Linked DNA regions of Homo sapiens. The main gene of each other region encodes a partner of the protein of the gene in region 3 in a complex. Each region holds a gene or a part of one and is shown on either strand. Other genes may lie near its edges. A codon is read from its position in the direction of its gene.

What was found.
Region 1: the proteins of THOC2 (region 3) and THOC3 are in contact, whole or in part, in a cryo-EM structure (PDB 7ZNL), measured with the Homo sapiens proteins. Residues at the interface, in NP_001075019.1 of Homo sapiens: Tyr395, Arg396, Pro401, Lys402, Gly403, Ala404, Lys405, Gly406, Ser407, Pro446, Ile447, Ala450, Arg454, Cys500, Asn501, Ala502, Cys503, Met504, Glu506, Pro563, Arg566, Gln567, Lys570, His573, Tyr603, Leu604, Thr605; in NP_115737.1 of Homo sapiens: Asp193 (codon at 5,973), Met196 (codon at 5,964), Ile208 (codon at 5,928), Val217 (codon at 2,385), Gln218 (codon at 2,382), Asn221 (codon at 2,373), Ala222 (codon at 2,370), Pro224 (codon at 2,364), Ser225 (codon at 2,361), Ala244 (codon at 2,304), Asp245 (codon at 2,301), Ala246 (codon at 2,298), Leu247 (codon at 2,295), Ser249 (codon at 2,289), Trp251 (codon at 2,283), Asp252 (codon at 2,280), Asp254 (codon at 2,274), Glu255 (codon at 2,271), Leu256 (codon at 2,268), Val257 (codon at 2,265), Cys258 (codon at 2,262), Val259 (codon at 2,259), Cys261 (codon at 2,253), Ser263 (codon at 2,247), Leu265 (codon at 2,120), Asp266 (codon at 2,117), Pro268 (codon at 2,111).
Region 2: the proteins of THOC2 (region 3) and THOC1 are in contact, whole or in part, in a cryo-EM structure (PDB 7ZNL), measured with the Homo sapiens proteins. Residues at the interface, in NP_001075019.1 of Homo sapiens: Leu155, Phe156, Tyr157, Lys158, Gln160, Asn163, Leu164, Leu165, Arg166, Asn169, Glu170, Ala173, Lys174, Ile176, Ala177, Gly180, Gln181, Asn195, Lys197, Ser198, Leu199, Ile200, Gly201, Cys202, Phe203, Asn204, Leu205, Pro207, Asn208, Arg209; in NP_005122.2 of Homo sapiens: Asn134, Arg138, Asn141, Leu144, Arg145, Lys149, Thr153, Cys156, Gly157, Gln160, Leu161, Ala164, Arg165, Phe167, Gln242, Phe245, Arg246, Tyr297, Ala299, Lys300, Phe301, Arg319 (codon at 3,196), His320 (codon at 3,199), Leu323 (codon at 3,208), Gln324 (codon at 3,211), Ile327 (codon at 3,220), Tyr331 (codon at 3,232), Arg373 (codon at 4,952), Phe374 (codon at 4,955), Lys376 (codon at 4,961).
Region 4: THOC2 (region 3) and THOC6 share a complex: the UniProt entries of both Homo sapiens proteins name them as parts of the transcription/export (TREX) complex.

What each region holds. Positions count from the first base shown.
Region 1 is NC_000005.10:175,959,031-175,965,315, forward strand, and holds the end of THOC3 (THO complex subunit 3), read right to left. Parts: intron 6,126-6,285; coding exon 5,921-6,125; intron 2,405-5,920; coding exon 2,243-2,404; intron 2,122-2,242; coding exon 2,021-2,121; coding exon of another isoform or gene 1,929-2,020; exon of another isoform or gene 1,160-1,928; intron 1,103-1,159; coding exon 939-1,102; 3' UTR 501-938; downstream 1-500. UniProt on the Homo sapiens protein: Component of the THO subcomplex of the TREX complex which is thought to couple mRNA transcription, processing and nuclear export, and which specifically associates with spliced mRNA and not with unspliced pre-mRNA.
Region 2 is NC_000018.10:223,037-230,060, reverse strand, and holds part of THOC1 (THO complex subunit 1), read left to right. Parts: intron 1-3,159; coding exon 3,160-3,260; intron 3,261-4,657; coding exon 4,658-4,724; intron 4,725-4,921; coding exon 4,922-4,972; intron 4,973-5,066; coding exon 5,067-5,137; intron 5,138-5,860; coding exon of another isoform or gene 5,861-5,881; coding exon 5,882-5,977; intron 5,978-6,555; coding exon 6,556-6,621; intron 6,622-7,024. UniProt on the Homo sapiens protein: Component of the THO subcomplex of the TREX complex which is thought to couple mRNA transcription, processing and nuclear export, and which specifically associates with spliced mRNA and not with unspliced pre-mRNA.
Region 3 is NC_000023.11:123,730,041-123,737,606, reverse strand, and holds the start of THOC2 (THO complex subunit 2), read left to right. Parts: upstream 1-4,554; 5' UTR 4,555-4,584; coding exon 4,585-4,655; intron 4,656-7,566. UniProt on the Homo sapiens protein: Component of the THO subcomplex of the TREX complex which is thought to couple mRNA transcription, processing and nuclear export, and which specifically associates with spliced mRNA and not with unspliced pre-mRNA.
Region 4 is NC_000016.10:3,019,164-3,027,045, forward strand, and holds the start of THOC6 (THO complex subunit 6), read left to right. Parts: upstream 1-4,871; 5' UTR 4,872-5,163; coding exon 5,164-5,202; intron 5,203-6,544; coding exon 6,545-6,660; intron 6,661-6,760; coding exon 6,761-6,825; intron 6,826-6,899; coding exon 6,900-7,003; intron 7,004-7,087; coding exon 7,088-7,125; intron 7,126-7,201; coding exon 7,202-7,250; intron 7,251-7,352; coding exon 7,353-7,424; intron 7,425-7,515; coding exon 7,516-7,618; intron 7,619-7,703; coding exon 7,704-7,753; intron 7,754-7,847; coding exon 7,848-7,882. Other genes in the region: TNFRSF12A (tumor necrosis factor receptor superfamily member 12A precursor), read left to right, coding at 1,235-1,328, 2,052-2,156, 2,392-2,526, 2,608-2,663; HCFC1R1 (host cell factor C1 regulator 1), read right to left, coding at 3,700-3,835, 4,070-4,198, 4,311-4,367, 4,684-4,778. UniProt on the Homo sapiens protein: Component of the THO subcomplex of the TREX complex which is thought to couple mRNA transcription, processing and nuclear export, and which specifically associates with spliced mRNA and not with unspliced pre-mRNA.

The DNA.
Region 1 (6,285 bases), on a different chromosome or scaffold from region 3:
AACTTCTGGAAGGATATACATCAAAATTCTAATAGCAGTTACCTCTTGGTGCTAGGAATGTAATTTTTCTTTTTGCTTATCTTTTTCCAAAATTTTCTACCAACACTATTTCTATATGCCTCAATATTTGCTTTAACACCAAACAAAATTACAATATAATGAAAAACCACTGCTCTTAGGTAACAACCCTCCAAACATAAGCCCTTTTTTTTAGAGGGAAGAACTAATAAAGCTTTGCTTTCCATGAGGAACCAATAAGTGTTTTTCTTTTCAATAAGAAAGCTAAATGACTTACTCCCCTCTTCACTTTGCCACCAGGAAGCTCAGAGCCAAAATTTTAGTTTGGTCATTCAATTAGCTTTGTCCCTATATTTCAGAGGCTTCTTGGTTGGGACATTAAATGACAGAATTATAACATTTAAATTCTCTTTCTGAAATTAAAAAAAAAAAAAATACAAAACTGCAACTCAAGGACATAATAATTTTAAAAGTCTTAGAAGTTCCATAATAACAAAAGTCAGTTTATTAAATGCTCAATTCTCAAAATTATATATATATATTTTTAATTATTTAAAAAAACTTCCATGCCCTTCCATTCCCCTCCCTCCAAACTAGGTATTGTCCAAGTTGTATCAAATGCCACAAAGTCTACCATGCACCCAGAAGCAGAGAAGACAGGAGGTCCAGAGGACAAGGTATGGTGGGGTCACTACTCGCACTGCAGAGTCCACGCGAGTTAACTCATGCTGGGGGCAAAGAATGGAAAGAGCTAATACACAGACAAAGCAAAAGAATGAAATGCGCAGCCTGACCAGAGACGTTTACAATTTATACCAACTTACAAATATTTAGGGTGCCCACCAACTCCGAGAGAACAGACCAAACTAACCACATGAAGGAAGACCTCTGCCGGGGCCTCCTCTCCCTACAACCTCCTCTCAAGAATCATTAGGAAGCCCAAACAGCTTCACAGTTCCGGCTTCCCGGCTGCTGTCATATTTGCCGTCTTTGTCATCACAGGCAAATGCCAGCAGAGGCCTTTTGGGGTGCCACGCCACTGTGAAGGTCGGAGACTCACACTGTACCTCCCATAGTTTGTCCCCTACAGAAAACAATAGAGAGAAACCAATCAATACGTTCAAAACGAAGGACACATTCATTAAGTACTTACCAGTATTAACTGGTTTAATCCACCTACTAATCCCATGAGATAGATACAACTATTACCTCATTTTACAGAGAACCCCCAGGCACAGAGAGCCCACAAGCCAGTGGAGGACAGAGCCGGTTCTGAGCACAGGTGGGTTAACTCAAGAGCAGGTCACTGAGCAGGAAAGTGTCTCCGCGTCACAGGGACATGCAGTTACATGAAGGATCTGCATGGCTGGATGCTGGACAATGTTCACCACAACGTGACTAACAGGGGCATGCATTCTTTACATAGTGGAATTTCAAGTTCTTTACTTTCCTCTTCGAAGTTTTCTATACAGTTTTAATCTTTTTACGAAGAGTGTCAAAGATTTCCAAAAACAATAAAGCAACATTAAAAAACAAATCTGAGGAAATTCTTTTGCAAAATGAATACTCTCCTCCCATTTTTCTATTTCCAGCTTCTGTTGTTTTTAAAGCAAAAACTTTATAATTCCTCAAATTTTAAATAATATTTTTTCAAGTTCATATACAGGCAAAAGATAAAGAGAAATATATCACAACATTTAAAACAGGTGGTATTTAGAGAGTGGGACCCCAAGTGGTGCTTTTTTCTTCCTTCTACTCTGTAGTTTAAAGTTTAAATAAATCAAAATATTTTTCTAAATCACTTTCCTCAGACCTGCCTGTTTATTTCTTAACTCTTTGCTTCCTCACCACCTGGCAGTGACAGTCAAAACAGAAACATACTTGTCTAAAGGAGACAAATTCATTCATGATCATGCTGGTGAAGTAGTCACATGCAGAGATGAGATCACAAGAGAAGTCCTGACTGCCAAAGGTGAAAGACGGTAGATTCTCATGAAGTTACCTGTCTCCACTTCAGCAATGTCAATAAAATGATCTTCCGATGCTGACGCCAGCATTTTCCCATCATGGCTGAAACTGAGGGTTCTTACAGGCCAATCCAGCCTATGATACAGAGTGGACAGAAGAGACAAGAGAATTACCAAGTAAGAGGAGGGAACAATGTCACTCAAGATGAAATAAAATTAATGTACCCAACAAGGGAAGTGCTGATAGAGTCACTTACCTGGAAAAGCACCGAACACACACTAACTCATCCACATCCCAGAGGCTGACCAAAGCATCTGCACTTCCTGTGGCAAAGTACTTCCCCATGGGGTCAAACTTGATACAGATGCAGTTGGAAGGATGGGCGTTGATGGACTGCACAGGCTTCAGTTCTGGGTAGCTGAGAAAAAAGACAGCGATCAAACTGCAGAAGAGGACTGTGGTGCTGAAACAATAATAGGAGATGATGAAGAAGAAAAGCAAAGATAATAGACCACCACCAAGAACTGTCATTCAAGATAACATTCCTGAAATAAAAAAAGATTTTGAACTACATTATTTAAAAAGCACAACACATACCTGAGACTACAGAACCAAAGTTACCAACATCGAGACAGAGACTAGCAAAACTAGTGGACTTTAAAGAAAAAGAAAATTAGATTATTGGGCTTTCTGACAGCAACACTTAATGCCAAAAGAAAATGGAGTACCATATTTAAGAAAGATACACAAGCGAGAAAACGAGCCAAGGATTTTTACATCCAGCAAAACTGAATTTCAAATATAATGATACAAACAATAAGCACAATAACGTTTTATAAAATCTGTAAGTTTTAGAAGTACGTAAATAAGTTGTAATAAAAACTCCAGGAATAATGTTCCCATGAACGCTTCCCGAGGAATCTTAACTAGAGAATGAGCTTCAATTAAAAAAATGACTAGAGACTTATAAGGACTGGTGCTCAACACTGAATATACAGTTTCTTGCAAAAACTATACATGGTTTAAAGAGAGGGTATAATATGTAACATCTGCACATGCTTACAACATATAGTACTATTTTTTTAATGGGGGAAGAATGGAAAGAGTATATGCAAAAACCAAAAACATTTTTTGTTTCAAGTCATCACATTGGTGGTAGCAGCAGTAATATTGTTGTTCTGAGACATCTATATGTTTACCATGGGAGATAGGTAATAAGTAACCATCGGATATTCTAATTCTATGATCCCCTGTGCCCTTGAGAACCAGAATACTCAATTTGGGAGGAAAGAAATATATTTGTAATATAGAAGAGGTTTAGTAAAATCCCTGGAGTCCTCAATTTTGATTGCAAGTTATCAACATGAATTCATAAGGTATTTTATCTTTAAATATATATATATATACACACACACACACACACACACGTAATTCCTAGGCCAACCCAGCAGTAATGAACATTCCTAACTTCAGTATCATTTCTCAGTAAAAGAATGTAAGGCTCCTTTTTTTTTTTTTTTTTTGAGGTGGAATCTCACTCAGTCGTCCAGAATGCTGGAGTGCAGTGGTGCAATCTAAACTTACTACAACCTCCGCCTCCCGGGTTCAAGCGATTCTCCTGCCTCAGTCTGCCAAGCAGCTGGGAATATACACGTGCGTCACCACGCCCAGATAATTTTTGTATTTTGAGTAGAGACAGGGTTTCTCTATGATTGCCAGGTCTCAAGTGATCCACTCGCCTCGGCCTCCCAAAGTGCCAAAGTGCTGGGATTACAGGCGTGAGCCACCGCACCCAGCCAGAATGTTAAGGCTTCTTGGAGAATGTTCTGATTAAAGGTCTGGGGCAAGAAATGCACAAGATGAACTTGGAACATCTTATCAAACCAGAGAGCAAAAAAACAGAAGACGATGGGATTATGTCAAAAAAGGTCTCAGGAACCAACTTGAAGAGGTTCTTATTGGCCAAAGATGGGATAATTTGAGCTTCAACAGGCGTAACAATTACAAGAGATGGAAACACACCAACTATGTTTAAAAACATCAGCCCGTAATGATTCTTTAAAAAAAAAACACCTAACTGCTCATCTTTGGAGGTAGCAGGAAACAAAATCATTATCTGACAAACAGAATCAAAATTTTATCCTGCCTTCCCTACATGAACTACACTACTGGGTAACCAAATCGCAGATGAGAAGCAGCATCTCTTTACACAACAGTCCAACACATAAACAGCATATGGAATCAGCAAAAGCCAAACTGGGAGAATCTCCACAGGTTAACAGTCTGGTTTTTCAACAGCTACGTTTTCGGAAGTTTCTTTTGAGTAATTTAAGAGATACAAAAGACATATCAATTTTTTTTTTTTTTAATGAGCAAAACTAGGGTATCTAGGGGCTGCACATGTGGTAGATAAACTATGAAGAAACACTATAAAAGTCAGGATAGTGTTTGCTTTTGTGGAAGGAAGTTGTAATTAGGACAAATCACCTGGATGGACTTCTGGGATGGCTGGAAAGAACTACTTCTCAACTTGGGCGGGGTTGCACAAGAGTTAAGCCTATAAGAGTTCATTAAGCTATACATTTATTTTATGTGGTTTTCAATATCTGTGTTTTATAATAAAAAGATTTTTCTTAAAAAGTTATAGAATCCCCATTGCCTACAAAATAAAACCCAAGATACTAAGCATAAAATAAAGGCCTTTTATAATCTGGTCCCAAATTAGACTTCATCTTCCCATTATCATGCCCTCTCTTATTTCCCTTATCTGCCACCACTCCCCCAACAACCCTGACCTAACCACTCTCCAAGTAAGTCATGCTCACTCACACCTGCTTTGTCAGTTATGTGGTTCCCTTTTGCTTATTCTTAAAATTCTGCTCATCTTTCAAGATCAAGCTCACAAGCTCCCTCCTTCAACCCCCCATATAGTATGTCTGTTCTTTCCGTGGAATTTCACAGCAAACTCCTGGCCTCCCACTCACAGAACCTATCTCACTTGGTCTTGCATTGTTCACCTGGGATAGTGGAAGGCTAGAATTGAACAGACCTGAATTTCAGCTCCACAGTTTCATTCATTTACAGAACAAATATTTACTAAGATCCTACTACGTGGAGCAGGTACAGGACTAGACATTAGGGACTCAACACTAAACAAGGCAAACACCATCCCTACCATCAAGGAATTCACAGTCTAACAGGAGACACAGGCAAATAAACATGCAATTACAATATAGAAAGAAAAGTGCTTCCTACAGAAAGTATATAAAATACGCCTCTAACCTACCTCTAACCTTGGGGTAGCGGGGGAGCTTCCCTGAAGGCAAAGTGATATTTCAGTTGAAACTTTAAGAGTACGAATTAGCCAGAGGTCGGGCTAATCACCTGAGGTCGGGAGTTGGAGACCAGCCTGACCAACATGGAGAAACCCTAAACTACAAAAAATACAAAATTAGCCAGGTGTGGTGGCACATGCCTCTAATCCCAGCTACTTGGGAGGCTGAGGCAGGAGAATCGCTTAACCTCGGAGGCAGAGGTTGCGGTGAGCCAAGATCACACCATTGCACTGCAGCCTGGGCAACAAGAGCAAAACTCTGTCTCGAAAAACAAAAAAAAAGGGAGTACGAATTAGCCATAATTCAAGGTGCATCCAGTTCTAGCACACACTAGCTGACTACTGATGTAACCTCTCACCCTCAGATCCTCATCTGTCAAATGAGAAGCAAATCATCAACCCCTAGAATTTCTGTAAGGACTCAGTAAAATATAAAGTATATAAAATATACAGCTCAAATGTACTTAAGACAGGTTAGGATTCTCTCTTACTATTTGTGTTTTAAGCTCCTTCAGGATAGGCTCACATCTAATTCATCTCCATATCTGACACAGCACCCAGCACAAAGACATGACAGTCCCCTAAGCTAGACCCCCTCACCTGAGGATGTTGATACAACCATTGCCATTTGTCAGGAAGAACATATTATTGTCATTGTTCCAGGAGATTTCGTTGACCTCGAACTTGAACTGCTCTTCTGCTTTGGAACGGTGTGTCTTGGCATCAATAAAGGTCACCACATCATCCTTGTTGCCTACAGCAATGGTCTGCCCATCAGGACTCCAGCAGATATTAATGTTCTCCCCTGGGAACCCAGACATAATCAGCAAGATAATCTGTTTGCTCATAATCTTCCACAAGTTTATTGCACTATCCTAGAAAGAAGACCAGAGCTTTCTTCCGGGCTTACTCATTAAAGTCCTAGACAATGGAAGGGAGCTACCACTTATGATTCAACAATAAGT
Region 2 (7,024 bases), on a different chromosome or scaffold from region 3:
AGATGTGTGATAGGTTGTCTAGTGTACAAAGCTGGAGACTAGGAACAAGATCTAGGTTGAGAGTATAGTTGTAGGAGTTACCAGTTTATAAATGGTAATTCAAACTGTAGAGTGTATGAAATGAGCTAAAGGGGAGAGTGTAGATTCAGAAGAGAAGAAAATACTGAAATCCCGAAGAAAACCCATGTTTAAGGGAGAATGAAGGGAGAAGAGGAGAAGATTGAAGAGTAACCTGTGAGATTAGAGAAAAACTAGAAAAGCATGCACTCATGGAAGCCAAGCATATCAAGTAGGATGAGGACAGTAAAGAGTGTTCACAGGATTTAACAACAAATAAGTCATTGGTGATCTTGACAAAACACTTTCTTCCCCCGCCCCAAGACCGATTGTTGCTCTGCTGCCCAGGCTGGAGTGCAGTGGCATGGTCTGGACTCATTGCAACCTCCGCCTCCCAGGTTTAAGCTATTCTCCTGCCTCAGCCTCCAGAGTAGCTGGAATTACAGGGCATGCACCACCACGCCCCGCTAATTTTTTTTTTTTTTAAATAGAGACGGGGTTTCACCATGTTGGCCAGGCTGGTCTCGAACTCCTGATCTTGTGATCCGCCCGCCTCAGCCTCCCAAAGTGCTGGGATTACAGGCGTGAACCACCACACCCAGCCGACAAAAACACTTTCAATGGATTAGTGGATGAGGCGGTCAGATGATAGCAGGTTGAGGAGCTGATTGGCAACAGTGCCTATAGTCAATTATTTTAAGAAGCTTTGCTGTTAAAGGGTTAGGTGAGAATGTGGGAGATTTTTGAGGGAGCTTATTTAATGCTTATGGAAAGGAGCTTGGAAAGAATAGGTTGTAGATACAGAAACCAGGGCAGTTAGTTGATGGAACTCAATTGTTAGGGATATTGGGATTCCAGATGGAAGGTAATCCAGATGGAATACCTTTAGCCGTGAAGGAGTTGTGACAGAAGGAAATGAAGTAAACAAAGGTGTAGGTGCAGCTGATTTGTCATTTTGGGGGCCAAGAAATGAAATGCTTTCCAATTTAATTTTTCTTCTCATTGAAGGCAAAAGTAGTTATCTACTGAAAGTGAGAAGGGGTGGTAAAGTAGTATTTTTGCTAAGTGGAAAGGGTTGAAAATCATTACTGTGAAGAGTAGGAGAGAGAATGGCCTTGAAGAATAAAGAAAGATTGCTGATTAAAAACAGATGTTTAAGGTGGTGACAACATACCAGTGGTGCCTTCTGCATAGCTGTGTAATTTGGGGTATTCACTCAGGCACCTCACTTTCAGCTGAGATTGGAATCCTGAGGGTTGGTATAGAGAAGGTGACTAACAGTTGGTTTATTCAAGGTTGCTGTTTGCTCACTAGACATGACAGAAGAAATATGGGACAAGTGTGTTGAAGTTGGCAAGAAAATGGCCGAAGAGATTAACCATGAAGTCTAGACCAGGAGTTGGCAGACTATAGCCTATAGGCCAAATCTGGCCCACCACCTGTGTTGGTTGTTTTTGGTGATTTTGGTTTTTTTTTCCCCCTTACATTTTAGATGTTTAAATACCTACATAATATCCATAATATGTCTCTTAGCCCACATAACCTATTAATAAAAATACTTACTATTTGACACTTCAGGAAAAAGTTTGCTGACCCCTTATCTAGACTAAAATAGGATTATAATAAAATGGGATGGGACTAACAGGCAGAGAATAGACGGGTCAAGGGCCTTAAAGTCTCGGTAAGATCCAAATATTAGGTATATTGGAAGCAACTGAGCGAGAGACCTGGGAAGGATAGAGGTTGTGGTGAGATAGGATTGTGAGTTGAAGACTTCAGATCTGGGGCAGCTGTGAGTGACCCCAGGTCTAGCTGTGGCCACAGTAGTGGGTAGCTGGAGCAGAGATGGGCCTGTCCGTGGAGTTAAGGGCAAGGAACTAACAGCCTGAGTGGAGACAGTCAAGTTGCCCAGGGGCTGGAGGAAGGGAAGGCTGATGGCCGGCCATTCACATTTCCAATTTGGGATAGGAGAGTTAATATAAATAACAATCAAATATATTCAATCCTTAAACGTGAGGGAAACCTGACTGGAAGGCTGATCATTAATTTTTTTTTTTAAGACCTGGAGCCACAGTGTGGAAGGGGTTGCTAGTGAATAGGGAGGCTTGTGCGTGTTAGGTAGCATTAGTAAATGGTACCAACCACGTAAAGCAGAGCCACCAGCACTTGGGACATTGAACCAAAACCAATCTTCGACGCTTCCAGCTGCCTTACTGGCGATTCATTTAGAAGAACGTGGCTTTCCTTTGTTACTGTAGTTTTTGAAGGCAGAACTAGCATGAGTTTGTGGATACAGACTTCAGCCTTCCTTCAGTGTTCCATGCACATAATCAGAATGACCTTCCTTCATCGCCGCAGGTTATTCTTACAGCTGGATGGCAGGGTCGTTGAAGAACTTCCTCATGAGTGACCTTCAAGTCCTTTCTAATCCAGATTCTGTGATAATACAAGTATGATGCAATTTTCACTAAAAGCTAAAAAAAAAAGCCCATCTAATCAGAGATGATCTTCACCTCTAATTTCTTGTTTATTGTCAAGTAATACCTCTGTTGCAGGCACTTTATAGGGCTACAAAAATGAGTGGTCCCCGTTGATATTGTGCTGTTATCCGTATCTTCTTTAGCCATTATTTCTTCATATGTGAGAAAGTAGTAGCCTCAGTTTTACTTTAAAAAAAAATTTTTTTTTTAAATTTAGAGTCTTGCTATGTTGCTCAGACTGATCTCGAACTCCTGAGCTCAAGTGATCCTCCTTCTCAGCTTCCTGAGTAGCTGGGACTATAATAGGCTTTGTGCCACCATGCCCAGCTTACTTTTTTCTATTTCTGCTTTATTTTATCCTCATGTCTGGACCATAGATAGATCATTGTTATCCACCAGCAAGAATGTGTCATGGCATAAAACAGTCAAGAAATCTAAGTGAAACCTTGACTGGGCTGTCTTTGGGCTTGTGCGGTAATGCCTCACATGCAGTGAACTCTCAACAAATGGCTTTTAAATTGAATTGGAATCTTCCATTTCTATATTAGCACATTTTGTACCTTTAGGAAAAACTTGATTTTAATGTGTTGTTTTCGTATGTGTTTGCTTGTTTCTTGAGTAGCTGATGGATTTACAACTGAGTGACAGTAACTTTCGTCGACACATCCTGTTGCAGTATCTCATTTTATTCCAATATCTCAAGGGGCAGGTCAAATTCAAAAGGTAAGATAATATGGGTAGTAAACAATTTGTAAACAGTAGCCAAGAAAAAAAAGGACTTGCTTACGATTTTTCTTATGTATGTGTCCATTTCATGTTAAGGCTGTATCCCTAAAACACATGTATTGCAGCTGATACATTGAAGGCTTTTCGATATTAGGATATTTAAGGAAAAGATGTTAAATATATCTGTCAGTGTGAGTTTTTCCTGCCCAACTCCAGGGCTTGCCAGGAGTTGTCGTCTTTATTAGCAGGTGGAGGTCTCTGCTCCAAAATTCCGTCATTCCCTTCTCACCTCCCTCAGACCTCCTCCAAAGCTGATTTGCAGACTAAGCCAGTAATACATATCTCACAAGGTGTGGAGCTCTGCAGGACATTCAAGCTAAAAGATGCAAAGAAAATTTTTAAGCAAAAAGGAGTTCATTTATTTGGGGTTTCACAAAACCTCATTAGGCTCTCTACTGTCTATCTAAATACTTCCATCCATTTCCTCCTATCCTGTCCATAACTGAAGGTGGAGCCCACTGTTACTTAACGGTATTTGTGTTAAGGACACTGAGCAATGCCGTATTAGTTGTATAATGACTTCACTACCTGCTGGGTTTGAATCCCAGGCTCGTCATTTGCTGGCTGCAGTGCAGCTCTTTCAGACTTGTAATTTTAAGGTAGTAGCACATGGTAAACACTCAAAAAATGTTATTTCTTATCCTTCTATCTATTTTGGAGGTTTGGTATAGCATAGTAGGAAGATGAGGGACTTTGAAGTGAGACGTGGGTTTGAATTAAATCTTTATGGCCTTGGGCAAATCAGTGAGACACGGTAGTCTCTGTTTAATATGTACATGTACTTGTTCCGAGAATTCAATGAATAATGTATGTAAAGTGTTCAGATCCTAGCCATCAATATTTATTGGATGTCTTTAAATCACCTAGTGCATTATGAGAGCTCAGTTAGTGGCAGCTATTAACAATTTGGGTTTGCCTGTTGCCTTTTCTAGGGTTTGGGTGTTTTATTCGTTGTATTTTGAATGAATCTTAATGTAGCATGCCATACTGAATGTGCATCATGTATACACATATCTTAATATCAAATCAGAAGTTTTCGTTTCACACTCAGCTTATTTTAGGAAACATATATTGCTCTGTTCATAGTGAATCTGATTGATTAATTGAATGTTTTATTCCCTGCATATGCTTTTATGTCTTCAGTACCAACCCTCTTGAGGAAGAAGTGCAAGAATTTTCTCTTATAATCCTCTCATTTGTGATTATTCTTGTCTTGGTAATTTTTGACACTATCCACAGTATAGTTACATGTTACATGCCTTGTGTTTTTTAAACCTTAAAGTTGCATATGCATTGCTGTAACTCAAGCATGCTTTCATTGCTTTGTTCCCTAGTTCAAACTATGTTTTAACTGATGAGCAATCACTTTGGATTGAAGATACTACAAAATCAGTTTATCAAGTAAGTTCAACACGCAACAAACCCATGATTGAAAAAATGGAAATTTAGGATTTTCTTTGTTTCAGCCCCAAATAGGAAAATAAGGATAAAGTTAAGCTCAGGTACAAGACCACAAACACTCCTTGGTTCTCTGCCTACAAACCACTCCTATGATGCAGAAAGTTGTTGAAAGCTTAGTATATTCTTTCTAATCACAGCTACTATCTGAAAACCCCCCCGATGGAGAAAGATTTTCAAAGATGGTAGAGGTATGTGTTTTTTATGCTTACATCCTCTTCTTAGCACGAAATAGAACTTCAGAGGATTCCACTAACCAAAATGTAATCGCTTTGTTTTTCCCAGCATATATTAAACACTGAAGAAAACTGGAACTCGTGGAAAAATGAAGGTTGCCCAAGTTTTGTGAAAGAAAGGTAAATACATACTGAAAGAAAGGTAAATACATACTCATCACAAGAACGACGAGAAAGGCTTTTGAAAATGTGCTCCGATATGATTATAGCATGTAAAAATACATGTATATATTTCACATAAAAAATGTAAGTTGAACTTTGTAAGAGTACAACCACTTTGATTTACCTCTGTATTTTTTAAACCTCATAAATTTCTTGTCATTAAATTCCTGGAACAAACATCTTATTATTGAGAAGAATACTGTATATCTACTCCGTGTAATTTGCCATATAATGTGGCATTTTTATCTTATATCTGATAATTGTTCTATCATAATATGAAGTTTTCATTTTTTTTTTTTTTTTGAGAGGGAGTCTCACTCTGTCACCCAGGCTGGAGTGCAGTGGCATGATCTTGGCTCACCGCAGCCTCCGCCTCTTGGGTTCAAGCGATTCTCATGCCTCAGCCTCCTGAGTTGCTGGGATTACAGGCGCCTACCACCATGCCTGGCTAATTTTTGTATTTTTAGTAGAGACAGGCTTTCACCATGTTGGCCAGGCTGGTCTCAAACTCCTGACCTCAGGTGATCCACCTACCTCAGCCTCCCAAAGTGCTGGGATTACAGGCATGAGCCACCATGCCCAGCCAGTTTTCATCTTTTTTAAGAGGAAAACAATAACTAAATTTTCTTTTACGTTAAACATTCTTCTATTTCTGTTATCCATTTGTAATTCAAAAAATAGTGTATGTTTTGTTCACGACAGAACATCAGATACCAAACCTACGAGAATAATTCGGAAGAGAACAGCACCCGAGGACTTCCTAGGGAAAGGACCCACCAAAAAAATTCTGATGGGAAAGTAGGTGAATTTGTCTTCATGTGGGATGTTCTTAGTTATTTTTATATTTTGAAGATGTTACTTTAAGAACTCTCCATCCAAAATATAGTATGAGATTGTGTTTGGTACACACATAGATAGCCAAAGCAAACCGCACTGTCTATACTGCCCATTGTGTGGGTTCATGCACCAGATAAACCTTCATTTTGTCTCCAGCTTCCAAAATCTGTGTCTCTAGGCTGTGCCATTTTTTCCGTTTCAGACAGTAGAATTGTTTAGATTCCAGTTGTTGCAAGGTACCATAATCCTTGAGTTCTCTTACCTTCCAGTTAACTATTCATTGCTTTATATTGTGCTGGAATATTTTTAGAAAAAACTAAAGATTATATCATTATCATTAGTCATGATTAATGATTATATGCTCATATAGAGAATAATTTTAGGTATTTTAAATACCAAAAATTATTGAGAAAAGTAAAACTCATACTGTCAACATCCCCAAATCCACTGTTTACATTGTATTGTTTTTCTGTTCAGTTTCAAGGCACATGAGGATGGTGTCCATAAAAAATGTATTTATTTCTGTGTCTATTTTGTAGTGAGGAGTTAACAAGGCTTTGGAATCTTTGCCCTGATAATATGGAAGCCTGTAAATCAGAGACAAGGCAAGTTGAACATTTTTCAAATGAAGTGTTGCTTTTGTCAAGTGTTGAGTAGAATGGAGCCTTTTCTCAGCTATGATCAGAGCTCAAATGAAATTTAAAAGTTTATTGTGGTTGACTTTTGGCACAGCAGCGTGTAACTTCCCACCATAAAACTCCTCAAAGTGCTGATAAAATAATTTTAGAAATCACAAAAAAATAAAGATTCACAAAAGGAATCAAAACTACAAACAGAAGAGTAAGCCTATGAACTGATACGGTTCTAGGGCAGCAGTACTAATGATTGCCAGCTTTGAGAACCAGGGAACTTGGGTTTTAATAGTCACAAAAGTTCGTTGAACTTGCAAAATGGGCAAGTTTAATAGCAGTCTAGACATAGGTAAAGTAAGAATTAATGGGTTAATTA
Region 3 (7,566 bases):
AAAAGACAAAAGAAATTAAGTTACAACAGCTTAATTTTTGTTGATATTAGTATTTGGCTGGTGTATTTGCCCCATCATTTCACTTTCAAACTTCTTGTGTCCCTGTGTTTTAGGGATGTCCCTTAAAAATAGCTAGATTTCAGTGGGGCACAGTGACTCACGCCTGTAATCCCAGCACTTTGGGAGCCCGAGGTGGGCAGATCGTTTTAGCTCAGGAGTTTGAGACCAGTCTGGGCTGCCTCTACAAAAAATACAAAAATTAGCCGGGTGTGGTGGTGAGTGCCTTTAGTCCCAGCTGTTTGGGAGGCTGAAGTGGGAGGAAAAAGAAAAAGAAAAAGAAAAAGAAAAAGAAAAAGAAAAAGAAAAAGAAAAAGAAAAAGAAAAGATCTTGTTTTTACCAAAGGAGCACTGTAGACAGGAAGGAGACAAGTAGATTGGTTTGGCATAAACAGCCTTAGCATAAAATGCAGAAGTTATCAAGTAGCTTATTCTAAAGAACTTTTCTTCATTTTAAATCTCAAAAAACCCTTTGCATTCATTCTTTAATTATTTTGTTATTTTGTCTTGTTTTGCTTTTATGTGCTTCCTTTTTGGTCCCATTATTTGTCTTCACTGAGATGGTAAGTTATAAGATTGCTTGACCTTACAGTAACCTAAAATCAACCTATCATTCCATGCATCAGACTGTCAACATTGAAACTACCCAATCCCTGGCCTCCACCACAGACCTCAGTCCCTGAATAGCACATTGGTATCCATGAGCTTGTGAGATCACCAGGGAAAAATCCCCCCAGCTGCTGAGATAATACCAGATGCTGATAGCAAAGAGCAGGCAAGCCAACAACAAGGATGCAGAAGATTTAATAGCTTTGCAATCTTATAGATCAAAAAGCCAATTAGCTCTGAGTAATTCCTAAAGGAGTCATCATACCATGTAAAAATAGTTCTGCAGTTTCTGGAAGAAGGGAAAACCAGGCCTCAAAGGGCATCATTGCACTCAGGTCATACCACAAGTGTGACATACTGATTACTATGCATACTGCACAGTTCAATGTTTGGAAGAAGAAATCACTGTGATACGTGGCAAGGTAAGCCACAGTACAGGAGAATACTGTAGCTCAGTGGTTCTCAAAAGGGGACTGTTTTGCCCTCCAGGAGACATTTAGCAATGTCTGGAAACGGTTGTAATAACTGGTGTGGGTGTGTGTGTGTGTGTGTGTGTGTGTGTGTGTATGGGGGCTGCTACTGACATCTAGTGAGTCAAGGCCAGAGATGTTGCTAAACATTCTACAATGCAGAGGACCCCTGCCCCCTGGCCCCCATCCCCCCTATCCCCACAAAAAATTATCTGACCCAGGTTGAAAGTCCTTGCTGTAGACTACACAGAGAAGTATACATAAGTAGCAAGATAGTGCTTCTTGTATCACAGAAGCCGTCTTGTAATAATGACTTCAAAGTTTTCCAGGAAGGATGATGGTACATGAAGATTCACTGTATCATTCTGTTTGCTTTGTATACATTTTAAATTGTCCATAATAAGGAAACATGAAAAGATTAGAGGGCACTTCTATATTTGATCCTCCTCAAAACGGCAGAAGGTTTTTACAAGCAGAAATCACTGAAGTTAATAGGTGGATATTTTCTAGTGGGTGGCTTTAGAATTTCAAAGTGAGACAGGACACTAGAAGACTAGATACAGCTGGTGAAAAACAATCATAAACAATGGAGCATTTTCCCAGAACCAGTTCTGAATACAGCACATAACTTAAATAGTTTTTCAATGCAAATGAACCTGGTTCATTTGACAAAACTTGCCATATTTAGAAGATACTAGCTCTAAAGTTCATATGTGGGGTAGGATTTCTTCATTTGGATTGTCTGTATTTTCTGCCAAACGTGTGTTTTTTTTTTTTTTAATTTTTTTATTATACTTTAAGTTATAGGGTACACGTGCACAACGTGCAGGTTTGTTACATATGTATACATGGGCCATGTTGGTGTGTTGCACCCATTAACTCGTCATTTACATTAGGTATATATCCTAATGCTATCGCCCCCCACCCCACAACAGACCCCGGTGTGTGATGTTCCCCTTCCTGTGTCCAAGTGTTCTCATTGTTCAATTCCCACCTATGAATGAGAACATGAGGTGTTTGGTTTTTTGTCCTTGTGATAGTTTGCTGAGAATGATGGTTTCCAGCTTCATCCATGTCCCTACAGAGGACATGAACTCATCATTTTTTATGGCTGCATAGTATTCCATGGTGTATATGTGCCACATTTTCTTTCTTTCTTTTTTTTTTTTTTTCTGTCAAGTCTGCTTTATTTAAGTCAATATTAGACCTGCTGTTCCTAAACAGAAATGCCCTGATGACAGAGGAGTGGGAGGGAAGCAGGCTCATGTGAGGGTGTGGGAAGGCCACTTGGCCCAAAATGTTTGCAAGAAATACACCAGGAAAAGCCTATTTTAATTCTCCTGCATTAGGAACTGCCCTGTGAGATTCCTGCAAAATAATCCTCCAGGCTCAGGACTATTCCTCTTCTCTTGTGCTAGACACATCTCTCTTCTGGAAAGTTTTCCTTCCTTTTTTTTTTTTTTTTTTCTGTTGACTTTTTTTTTTTTTTTTATTGATCATTCTTGGGTGTTTCTCGCAGAGGGGGATTTGGCAGGGTCATAGGACAATAGTGGAGGGAAGGTCAGCAGATAAACAAGTGAACAAAGATCTCTGGTTTTCCTAGGCAGAGGACCCTGCGGCCTTCTGCAGTGTTTGTGTCCCTGGGTACTTGAGACTAGGGAGTGGTAATGACTCTTAACGAGCCTGCCGCCTTCAAGCATCTGTTTAACAAAGCCCATCTTGCACCGCCCTTAATCCATTTAACCCTGAGTGGACACAGCACATGTTTCAGAGAGCGCAGGGTTGGGGGTAAGGTCATAGATCAACAGGATCCCAAGGCAGAAGAATTTTTCTTAGTACAGAACAAAATGAAAAGTCTCCCATGTCTACCTCTTTCTACACAGACACAGCAACCATCCGATTTCTCAATCTTTTCCCCACCTTTCCCCCTTTTCTATTCCACAAAACCGCCATTGTCATCATGGCCCGTTCTCAATGAGCTGTTGGGTACACCTCCCAGACCGGGTGGTGGCCGGGCAGAGGGGCTCCTCACTTCCCAGTAGCGGCGGCCGGGCAGAGGCGCCCGTCACCTCCCGGACGGGGCGGCCGGCCGGGCGGGGGGCCGACCCCCCCACCTCCCTCCCGGACGGGGCGGCCGGCCGGGCGGAGACGCTCTTCACCTCTCAGACGGGGCGGCTGCCGGGCGGAGGGTCTCCTCACTTCTCAGACGGGGCGGCCGGGCAGAGACGCTCTTCACCTCCCAGACGGGGTCGCGGCCGGGCAGAGGCGCTCCTCACATCCCAGACGGGGCGGCGGGGCAGAGGCACTCCCCACATCTCAGACGATGGGCGGCCAGGCAGAGACGCTCCTCACTTCATCCCAGACGATGGGCAGCCGGGCAGAGACGCTCCTCACTTCCTAGACAGGATGGCGGCCGGGCAGAGACGCTCCTCACTTTCCAGACTGGGCAGCCAGGCAGAGGGGCTCCTCACATCCCAGACGATGGGCGGCCAGGCAGAGAGGCTCCTCACTTCCCAGACGGGGTGGCGGCCGGGCAAAGGCTGCAATCTCGGCACTTTGGGAGGCCAAGGCAGGCGGCTGGGAGGTGGAGGTTGCAGCGAGCCGAGATCACGCCACTGCACCCCAGCCTGGGCACCATTGAGCACTGAGTGAACGAGACTCCGTCTGCAATCCCGGCACCTCGGGAGGCCGAGGCTGGCGGATCACTCGCGGTTAGGAGCTGGAGACCAGCCCGGCCAACACAGCGAAACCCCGTCTCCACCAAAAAAATACGAAAAACAGTCAGGCGTGGCGGCGCGCACCTGCAATCGCAGGCACTCGGCAGGCTGAGGCAGGAGAATCAGGCAGGGAGGTTGCAGTGAGCCGAGATGGCAGTACAGTCCAGCTTTGGCTCGGCATCAGAGGGAGACTGTGGAAAGAGAGGGAGAGGGAGACCGTGGGGAGAGGGAGACGGGAGAGGGAGACGGGAGAGGGAGAGGGAGAAGGAGAGGGACCCGATTATTTTCTTTTATCTCAGCAGTCAGCAGGGCGTAATGTAATTTATTTGCTTATATTTATGGCTTTCCCAAAGACTATTATTTCTCTATTCCCAGTGTCTAGCACATATTAGGTGCTTGAAAAATGCGTGTTTGTATTAGTGGTTAGGGGTAGATATTACGGAAGAAGATGAAGTCTACTTGTTGGCCTGTGGATGGCATTTCTCTGTTCTAATGGGAAGTAAGGCCGAAGACTTCGGAGGGCGCAACCCGTGTAGTAACCTCGCAAAGGGGCCCGCGAGTCTCCACGTCGTTGGCTGCCTTGCCTCGGGTTTCCGCTGGGTGGAGAGGAAAGTGGGGCGGGAAATCGAAAAACGAACTCTCAGCTCCCGGCATTCCTCGTGGGCGGTGCTCCCCTTTGACCCTTCGCTCGCGTGCTACACATCCGGGCTTCTGCTACTAGTGAGAGGAAGATGGCGGCCGCGGCTGTGGTGGTTCCCGCAGAGTGGATAAAGAACTGGGAGAAATCAGGGAGAGGCGAATTGTGAGTGTTCGGGCCGGAGGCAGGCGCACTGCCGGGCCGGGCCAGGGCGTCAGCTGCACTCTCACCTGTAGTGGGAGGTTGAGGGGGAAAGATGTACCCCCTCCCCCACCCGGGCGGCGGGCGTGGATGGTCGTCTAGGAGTTTCGAACTCGGGGAGAGGTGCTGTTTACCGCCGCGGACCTCCTTCCTTCCCTGGCCTCCCAGAAATCGCTACTGCCTGCGGTAGCTCGGCTTCCTTTAGCCTCTTAGTAGAACTCTTATTCCGCCCCTGCAGGTCTCCGCGCTCCCTCTTGGTCTCTTTTTGTGTCCCCCTCTTCGCTTGATCTCACTTGGCTCCTTTATCTTTATGGGGCTGAGCCGGGGCAATTCGGACTTTCCATCTCTCTCTGTGCCATTTCTTCACTCTGCACCCGTTGGACTCCGCAGTTTGGAGCTTGGCGCCTCCTCTGCCTGAAGTCCAAGGAGGGCGAACCGTCCCGGATTCCCCTCCCCTCCTCTTCGCCCGCTGCCGCGAAGCCCGGGGCGCCGCGAAGAACCCGGTTTGGCACCTCTCGCCCTCCCGGGGAGCGGTCTCTCGACTGTCCCGGCCTCGCGTAGCGCCGTGGGGAAGTGTGGCAGGGATTGCCGCTTTCCCTGAAGAACCACCGACATTTCTTTGCTCCGTCTTTTCACCTTAGAGCTATTTCGGGTTGGATTCAACTTTCGTCATTAAATGTTCCCTAAACCCCATTTTATCCTGGGACTGCAACTAATTCTGGCAGCTCTCCAAGCTTCTCCAGTACCTAGGATAACGCGTTTCCTTTAGTCGTGAAACTTTCCCCCGTAACACCGAAAACAGTAATTTGCCATACCCCTAGTCTTCTCGCCCCCACGTTAGAGCGCTCCCTCCTCCCCTTCCCCTGGAAGGAGTCGTTTAAGCAGCAAAGCAAACCTCAGATATAAGAACAAATATTAATAACATCTCATTTCCTTCTCTGGGTCGCTTTTAGATGCTAAAGCTCAACCCTGGATGAAATTAACCCTCGTTAGCCATTTTTGTCGTCCTTGCCCACCCCTCTCCATTTCTAGTAGCCAGTTTACCGTGGCTCATGCTAAAGATTCAAATCTTTGTAACTTCGTTACTTGGAACGAAACACGAGGAACGCGTTGCCGGATCCCGCGCTTGTAATAGTGCCAGCCTATGTGGCTTCCTCCCCCGCACCCCCCGCACTGCTGTATGAAGTCTTAACAGTGTGAGCTCTAGAATTCCCTAAATAAGCGGCTGTCTTAGCCACTTAAGTAGCTGAGTGACCTTGGGTAAGTTCCTTAACCACTTGGACTGTTTCCCCTTGAGTAAATTGGGAATAATAAGTACTCTACTCAAAGGATTGTTGTGAAGACTAAATAATGCCTGTAAAGCACTTGGCTTATAGTAAGTGCTCAAGTGATAGCTATTAAAAGTAATATTATTCCAACCTTTAGATATTTAAACTTCTCAGGACAGCTCATGCACTTAAAGTCTGTACCACTCAGGTTAGCAATTAATTGGTCTCTGACTTATTCATGTGTGTTTATTCTTGCACTGTAATGAATTGGGAGGCCTTTGAAATATAGGGACTATGTCTCATATTTCTTTTGGTTTAACACATGCCCCGCCCCCCCAGCCTATGCTTAGAATGCTTATTGGTTTATTAATTGTCAGAGAAGGCTATTTGATAAATCTTCGTTTTTAACTATAATGAACATTTTACAAATCCTCGTATGTGCTAGTTAACAAATAGCTGTCAAGTTTGATAGCTAGTTGACAAATAGCCATCAAGTTTGGGGAAGGCAAGATGGGAAGTTACCCAGCCAGACCATCATCTTCATCGATATTAGGGTAATCCCCCAAAACTGATAAAAGCAGTTCATTGTTTTGTTTACTTTCAAAGCCAGCTCATTTATTTAGGGGCTGTTATGTTTGTAGATTGCTCAGCTTCCTCCTTTCAGCTACTGTTTTTTGACAGTTTTACTTTTTTTTTTCCCCCTTGAGACGGAGTCTCGCTCTGTCGCCCAGGCTGGAGTGCAGTGGCGCGATCTCGGCTCACCGTAACCTCCGCCTCCCACGTTCAAGCGATTCTCCTGTCTCAGCCTCCTGAGTAGCTGGGACTACAGGCGCGTGCTACCACGCCCGGCTAATTTTTTGTATTTTTACTAGACACGGAGTTTCACCGTGTTATCCAGGATGGTCTCCATCTCCTGACCTGGTGATCCGCCCACCTCGGCCTCCCAACAGTTTTACTATTATTGCTGCCACCTTAGCATGAGTGGTATTAGGGCTATAAGGTGAAATTCTGCTTGGCTTCTGACTGGTAATGGTTTGAGAAAAAGTGATGTAGGAGATCGAAATACTTAGATAAAATGGAATTTTAGGTTCACATTATGTATATTTACATAATACATGCTATCTGTCATAGTTCTTATGTTTGAAGAGCTGCTTAAAAACTGTTATTAGAAGCCGAGCGTGGTGGCTCACGCCTGTAATCCCAGCAAATTGGGAGGCCGAGGCGGGTGGATCACCTGAGGTCAGGAGTTCCAGACAAGCCTGACCAACATGGAGAAACCCCATCTCTACTAAAAGTACAAAATTTGCCGAGCGTGGTGGCACATGCCTGTAATCCCAGCTACTCAGGAGGCTGAGGCGGGAGAATCGCTTGAATCTGGGAGGCGGAAGTTGCGGTGAGCGGAGATCGCGCTGTTGCACTCCAGCATGGGTAACAAGAGCGAAACTCTTTAAAAAAAAAAAAAAAACAAAAACCCAAACAAAAACAAACCAAAAACAACAGCAAAAAAACCTGTTATTAGAACTTACGTGTATGTAGTTATTGCATGACTTGTGGAATGTGGATTGAATTATAGTAGATCCAAATCAGTATAGTCAGTTTTATGATTG
Region 4 (7,882 bases), on a different chromosome or scaffold from region 3:
GGGATTACAGGCGTGAGCCACCGCGCCCGGCCTGTTTTGTTTTTTGAGATGGAGGCCCTCTCTGTCGCCCAGTCTGGAGTGCAATGGCGCTATCTCGACTGACTGCAACCTCCGTCTCCCAGGTTCCAGAAATTCTCCTGCCTCAGTCTCCCGAGTAGCTGAGATTACAGGCGCCCACTACCACGCCCGGCTAACTTCTTTCTTTTTTTTATTTTTAGTAAAGACGGGGGTTCACCAAGTTGGCCAGGCTGGTCTCGAGCTCCTGACCTCAGGTTTAATTGTTATACCCCCCGGGCCCTTAACAAAGCTGTAGTGGCCAGGCTAACCTGGGCAACATAGTAAGACCCTGGTCTCTACAAAAAATACAAAAATTAGCCGGACGTGGTGGGGCAGGGCCTGTGGTCCCAGCTACTTGGGAGGCTGAGGTGGGAGGCTCACCTGAGCCCAGAGAGCCGTGATCGTACCACTGCACTCCAGGCTGAGCAAGAGTGAGACGCAATCTCAAGGGGAGGTGGGGGGAAGGAAGCTGCAGTGATCTCTGCATGGATTGGTCGTGTGTCTGATTTCTTTTTATTGTTTGTTTGTTTGTTTATTTATTTATTTATTTATTTATTTATTTATTTGAGACGGACTCTCACTCTGTCGCCCAGGCTGGAGTGTAGTGGCGCGATCTCGGCTCACTGCAACTTCTGCCTCCCGGGTTCAAGAGATTCTCCTGCCTCAGCCTCCTGAGTAGCTCGGATTGCAGGCGCGCGCCACCACGCCCGGCTAATTTTTGTATTTCGAGTAGAGACGGCGTTTCACCACGTTGGTCAGGCTGCTCTCGAACTCCTGACCTCGTAATCCGCCTGCCTCAGACTCCCAAACTGATGGGATTAAAGGCGTGAGCCACCGCGTCCGGCCGTTCGTGTCTGATTTCTATATGTGCTGCCGAAGCGAGCACTCGTGTCTAATTTTTGATTTCCCCACACCACGCACGCTGGACTAGATCACCGGCTGGGCAAGGAAGGGGGTCTGCGTCCCTGCGGGGTCCTGGCAGCTCCCGCGCCAGGACTTTGTTGAATGAATGACTGAACTGAGCGGGCGCCGCGGGGCGGGGCGTCCCGAAGCGGACCTCAAGGCGGGCGGAGGCGAGAGCTCCGCCCCGGAAGGCGGGGGCGGGGGCGGGGCGGCGGCCGTGGGTCCCTGCCGGCCGGCGGCGGGCGCAGACAGCGGCGGGCGCAGGACGTGCACTATGGCTCGGGGCTCGCTGCGCCGGTTGCTGCGGCTCCTCGTGCTGGGGCTCTGGCTGGCGTTGCTGCGCTCCGTGGCCGGGGAGCAAGCGCCAGGTACGCGGGACTCCGGGGTCGGGGAACCCCGGGCCGGGGCTCGGGAGCCGGACTGGGTGTCTGGAGAACAGCGCCGAACTGGGGGAACAGGCGGATGTGGGGATCTGGGGTCAGGTGGCCTTCAAACAGCTCGCTCCCGGCTGTGGGAAGTTCCATCACTCTCCAAGCTTCATTCACAATCCGGGCCTCAGTTTCTCCCACCGTCCAATTGGGGTTGGGGGGGGTCTTCAGTTCCACAAGTCCGAAGTACTTCGAATGGAGAGAGAAAGTGAGTGAGGGCGGGATGTTTAGTCTAGGAAGGGGCACGCCCCCAGCCTGGTCCGTACAGGGTCTAACTAGCCCCAGTGATCGACGAGTTGGGGAGGCCGTCGAGAGGCACTAGGGTCTGTGCCCTCTATACCATGTGGGGTGCCCCCTTCCATCCGGTGACTTCAGTGCCCAGCTATGCGGGGGGAGGGACTGGGGTCGGGCCCGGTGCCCAGGAGTGAGTCACCCGCCGGCGGCAGGGGGGTTGTGGGGACCTGACCCCCCCCACCCCCAGCGTCCCGCGCTACGCCCTCCCTCCCGGAGCTGCCGTGTCCCGGTCGGGCCGTGCGGTCACCTGTGAGGAATGCGCGGGGAGGGCGCCGGTGACTCACGTTATTCGAGCCGGCCGACCCTGACCTCAGACCCCAGAATAGCCGAGTCCCGCCCCCAGCCTCTGACCCGAGGCCCCCTCCCCAGGCACCGCCCCCTGCTCCCGCGGCAGCTCCTGGAGCGCGGACCTGGACAAGTGCATGGACTGCGCGTCTTGCAGGGCGCGACCGCACAGCGACTTCTGCCTGGGCTGTGAGTGGGGGGCAGGGCCAGTGGCCAGCGGACCCCAGACTGGGAGGGAGGGTGGCTGGTGCGCAGAGCGGGGCCGAGAGCTTTGCATCTGGGAAATCATTCGGGAGGAGGTGGGAGCTGGGAGGGGGCTCCGGTCAGGGAGGAGGCCACGTTTGGGAGAAGGCAGAAGGCTCAGTCTTAGGGGGCGGGGCTGGCCTGGAGAGGGGCGAGGTCTGACTCCGAGTCCCGCCCCCAGGCGCTGCAGCACCTCCTGCCCCCTTCCGGCTGCTTTGGCCCATCCTTGGGGGCGCTCTGAGCCTGACCTTCGTGCTGGGGCTGCTTTCTGGCTTTTTGGTCTGGAGACGATGCCGCAGGAGAGAGAAGTTCACCAGTAAGTGTGCCCTGGCCTGCCCAGCCCTGTCAGCACTCGACCTTTTCTCTGCTGCTGACGACCCCACCTCTTATCTTGCAGCCCCCATAGAGGAGACCGGCGGAGAGGGCTGCCCAGCTGTGGCGCTGATCCAGTGACAATGTGCCCCCTGCCAGCCGGGGCTCGCCCACTCATCATTCATTCATCCATTCTAGAGCCAGTCTCTGCCTCCCAGACGCGGCGGGAGCCAAGCTCCTCCAACCACAAGGGGGGTGGGGGGCGGTGAATCACCTCTGAGGCCTGGGCCCAGGGTTCAGGGGAACCTTCCAAGGTGTCTGGTTGCCCTGCCTCTGGCTCCAGAACAGAAAGGGAGCCTCACGCTGGCTCACACAAAACAGCTGACACTGACTAAGGAACTGCAGCATTTGCACAGGGGAGGGGGGTGCCCTCCTTCCTAGAGGCCCTGGGGGCCAGGCTGACTTGGGGGGCAGACTTGACACTAGGCCCCACTCACTCAGATGTCCTGAAATTCCACCACGGGGGTCACCCTGGGGGGTTAGGGACCTATTTTTAACACTAGGGGGCTGGCCCACTAGGAGGGCTGGCCCTAAGATACAGACCCCCCCAACTCCCCAAAGCGGGGAGGAGATATTTATTTTGGGGAGAGTTTGGAGGGGAGGGAGAATTTATTAATAAAAGAATCTTTAACTTTAAATGGTTTGGAGAGGCAGTGATCCCCGACTGACTCCCCTGAGCTGGAGGGAGGGAGTGAGTCAGCCAGCCGCGGGGGCGGGGGTGAGGCTCTGACTCACACATTCTCAATGCCTGGAACTCAGCCGGCAAGGACCTGGCTGGCCCTAACAGTTTTCCAGGGAAGATCTTGAGGAGAAACCCCAGCATCCCGCGCCTCTGCCCTCTCCACCATCCCCAAAAGCCCCAGGTTCCAGACTGAAGCCTTCCTTTGCTCAGCAATCTTTATTCAGTTCTTCTTGGGGGTGGGATGCCTCCCTTCCCATGCTCCCACCCCTCCCATCCCAGAACTCCGTTGGGCTCAGTGTCCTCTGTTGAGGGAAGGTCTTGGTGCCCAGATGCCTACTCTGCAGGAGAGGGAGGAACCTTGTCCCTTTGCGGGAGTCGCTGGTCTCTTCTGTTGTGGGGAAGAAGGAAGGTGGGAGGGGCACTGTCCACCAGCACTCAGAGCTCCATTATGTCCCCAGCTGGGGTTGCAGGGTAGGGGGGACTGGGGGTGTCCCCCAGCCTCAGCAGACGGAGGGCCTCAGGGATGAGGCTGCCAGGATAGCGCCAGAGAAGCAGCTCAGAGCAAGGGCTCCTAGAAGAGGAAATGACTGTCAGGGCATGGAGCTGAGGCTGGCCTAGCTGAGCACCTCCCACCAGGTCCAGGTCCCCAGGGGCTCCTGGGTTCCCAGCACTTTCCAAAGAGCCAAGATGGGAAACAACCCAGAGGTCAGCTAGAGCTAAAAATGGCACGATGAGGCAGGGCCTGAGGTCAGCTGTGAGGACCGCCTGTGATTCTGCAGAAGGCCTGGCCAGTGGAGGAACCTACCTGAGTGGGGGCAGGGCTGGGGAGAAGGTCATGGGGGGGCTGCAGTAGGGGTGGTCATTGTGCAGGCTGAGTTGAGAGAAGTGGGTGGCCATGTTCTCCTCAGACAGAAACTGCTTGCGCAGAGGCTCCCTGGGGAGAGATGGCAGAGAGGCAGGCTGGGATACTGACACAGGAGGCAGCCTGTTGGGGACCAGAGGTGACAGAGATCTTGTTGGGAGTCCCTCCCTGCCCCCAAACTCACTGCTCCTCCTCCAGGCGCCGCTTGGTGCTCATGGGCACAGCTCCTCGGAGAGGGGAGCTGGGAAAAAAAGAGAGCCTGGTGCACCCCACCCTCTTGGCCCCTTCCCAAGGATCTGCCCGCCTAAGCCTGCAGCATCAGCCAGGAGCCCCAAGCCCATTCCTGTCTCAGCTGGTGCCGGTCCCCGCTCTCCTGGACCATCCAGCAGGGTACCTCGGAAGTCTCGACCCTCAGCCGCAGCCCCAGTCCCATCTCAGCTCACGCCTAAGCCCCGCCGATTCGCCCCACCCCGTATTCATCCTGCAGACCAGTCCTGAGCACCCAGCCAAAGCTCCTGCGGCCCTTGGTCAGGCCCACCCTGGTCCCCTACACGCACCTGGCGTCCAGGCCCCAAGTCACCCCCAAGGCGGCCCGCGGGAGGCGCTGGGCCCCTCCCTGGGGGCCTCGCTGCAAGGGCTGCTGCAGGATCATTGGGTTTTGGGGTCCTGCGGGTGGGATCTGGGCGACAGGGGAGGAGTCTCTGAGGGCGTGGCCAAGAGAGGATGGGCGTGGCTTTAGGCGGGCACAGCCGCGAGGTTCTGCGCGGGCGCGGAAGACGGGCGGCGCGTGGCGGAAGGCAGGCTTGCTCCTCGGGGTGGGGGAGGGTATCCGGCTTAAGGGGGCTGCGGTGGACACCACTTCTTAATGTCGGGGGTCTTCGCGGCGCTCACCTCGGCTCCTAGGGTTCGGGACGGTACGCACCAGCCACCTTCGCGCCGAAGGCGGTAGGGCGCCACGGAGAGGAACCGCTCTAGGCACGTAAGGCCTCGTGAGGTTGCGTCGCGCGCGGAGCACTCTGGGACTTGTAGTTCTGGAGATGGAGCGAGCTGTGCCGCTCGCGGTGCCTCTGGGTCAGGTGAGACGGACGTGGTGCGCGTTGCCTTCTGGGGTTTGTAGTTCACGCATGGCTGGGACGGGGCGGGCAGGGAATCGTGCCCTGAGCCCTGTTTTGCCTGGGCTATTTGTGGGACTCAGACTCTGACCAGGGGGGCGGGATAGTAACCCAGAAGTGCTTCAGGGGCTTAACGCAAGTCAGAGAGTAGGAATTATAAATCAGTACGTTTTTCTATGTTGGGGTAGTAGAGGTACTTTTTTTTTTTTTTTAATTTTCTAGTTCTTGCAAAGCACTTTTTTTTTTTTTTTGAGACAGAGTCTCACTCTGTCACCTAGGCTAGAGTGCAGTGGCGCGATCTCAGCTCACTGCAACCTCCGCCTCCCAGGTTCAAGCGATTCTCCTGCCTCAGCCCTCCAAGTAGCTGGGACTATAGGCGTGTGCCACCATGCCCAGCTAATTTTCGTGTTTTTAGTAGAGACAGGGTTTCACCATGTTGACCAGGCTGGTCTCGAACTCCTGACCTCAGGTAATCTGCCTGCCTTGGCTTCTCAAAGTGCTAGGATTACAGGTGTGAGCCACCACGCCCGGCCAAATTTTTTTTTTTTTTTTTTTTTTGAGATGGAATTTCACTCTTGTTGCCCAAGCTGGAGTGCAGTGGCTCCATCTGGGTTCACCGCAACCTCCGCCTCCCAGATTCAAGCAATTCTCCTGCCTCAGCCTCCTGAGTAGCTGAGATTACAGGCATGCGCCACCACTCCCAGCTAATTTTGCATTTTTAGCAGAGACAGGGTTTCTCCATGTTGGTCAGGCTGGTCTTGAACTCCTGACCTCAGGTGGTCCACCTGCCTTGGCCTGCCAAAGTGCTGGGATTACAGGCGTGAGCCACTGCGCCCGGCCCCACATTTTTAAATTTTTTTTGAGACAGAGTCTCACTATGTTGCCCAGGCTGCTCTCAAACTCCTGGCCTCCCAGAGCGCTGGATTACAGGCATGAACCACCACACCCGGCTTAAGCACTGAGTGACAGCCCCATGTAAAGCTCTTGTCTATACACTAGCTCATCTAATTGTGATGGAATCTTCTGTGAGCTCCATTTGTCAGTTGAGGAAGCTGGCAGGAGAGGCCTGGGTGCTTGCTCAGAGGTCCCTGAGGCATCACCTCAACTCTCCCCTTCTTCAGTGTCTTCTTGGAGCCACCCATGGGACTGCATGGGCAGGTGCTGGCTTGGGGCGGGGCCGCCTCAAAAGAAGGCTGAGAAGTCAGGACAGTGGGAGGCCTGGCAGGTTTTGGGGGAAGCAGGGAGGAATCTGTGGATGGGAGGTTTCATACGTCCCAGGCAGGCCTCATCCAGTCTTTCCCTGCAGACAGAGGTGTTCCAGGCCTTGCAGCGGCTCCATATGACCATCTTCTCCCAGAGCGTCTCACCATGTGGGAAGTTTCTGGCGGCTGGCAACAATTACGGGCAGATTGCCATCTTCAGGTACCCTCTGCCGCTGTCCACCCATTAGCCCTGGCACTTGGCCCTCATGGGACGGATGCCCCCGTTTCTGACTCCTGGGTCCCCTCCGCTGTCCCTGCAGCTTGTCCTCTGCTTTGAGCTCAGAAGCCAAAGAGGAAAGTAAGAAGCCGGTGGTGACTTTCCAAGGTGGGTATACCTGTGGAGTCTGGCTTCAGGACTTTGGGTGGGATTGGCTCACTCAGTTCTGCATTTCTCTTTAGCCCATGATGGGCCCGTCTATAGCATGGTTTCCACCGATCGACATCTGCTTAGTGCTGGGGATGGGGAGGTGAAGGCCTGGCTTTGGGCGGAGATGCTCAAGAAGGTAAGGAGTCGAGCTTGGGAAAGGGCTGGGGTGCCTGGACCCAGAGAGAGCCTTTGAGGTCACCTGGTATTTTCTCTTTTGAAGGGCTGTAAGGAGCTGTGGCGTCGTCAGCCTCCATACAGGTGAGCAGGGCCACGTGGATAGAGGGTGCATCAGGGTGAAGCCACTTCCTCACTGACCTTGCCTTTCCTTCCCCAGGACCAGCCTGGAAGTGCCTGAGATCAACGCTTTGCTGCTGGTCCCCAAGGTCTGAGCCCCATGTGACTGTTCTTGGTCCAAACTTTGATCCTTCACCCTCTGCCTATCCTGATTTGACATTGACTTTCTGCCTCATCCTGCTCCTCCACAGGAGAATTCCCTCATCCTGGCTGGGGGAGACTGTCAGTTGCACACTATGGACCTTGAAACTGGGACTTTCACGGTGAGCAGGGTCCTGGAGCCCTAGAGCAGGTCTAGGTCAGGGAGAGGCACTCTTCCTAGGTCTCCTCCTGACATCGCCCCTCTACATGCAGAGGGTCCTCCGGGGCCACACAGACTACATCCACTGCCTGGCACTGCGGGAAAGGAGCCCAGAGGTGCTGTCAGGTGGCGAGGATGGAGCTGTTCGACTTTGGGGTAAGCAGGTGGCTGGTTGGAGGGCAAGATGGCAGTGAAGGAGGCTGAGGCAAGTGGGGCACCACTCACAGTTCTTTCCCCGCAGACCTGCGCACAGCCAAGGAGGTCCAGACGATCGAGGTCTATAAGCACGAGGTGAGGGTGTGACCGTGGCCATTGTCCTCTTCTCCCCCAACTCCTTGAATTCTCCAGGTCTTCACCTCTTTCCCTCCTCCCCTCCCCATCCCAGGAGTGCTCGAGGCCCCACAATGGGCGCTGGATTGG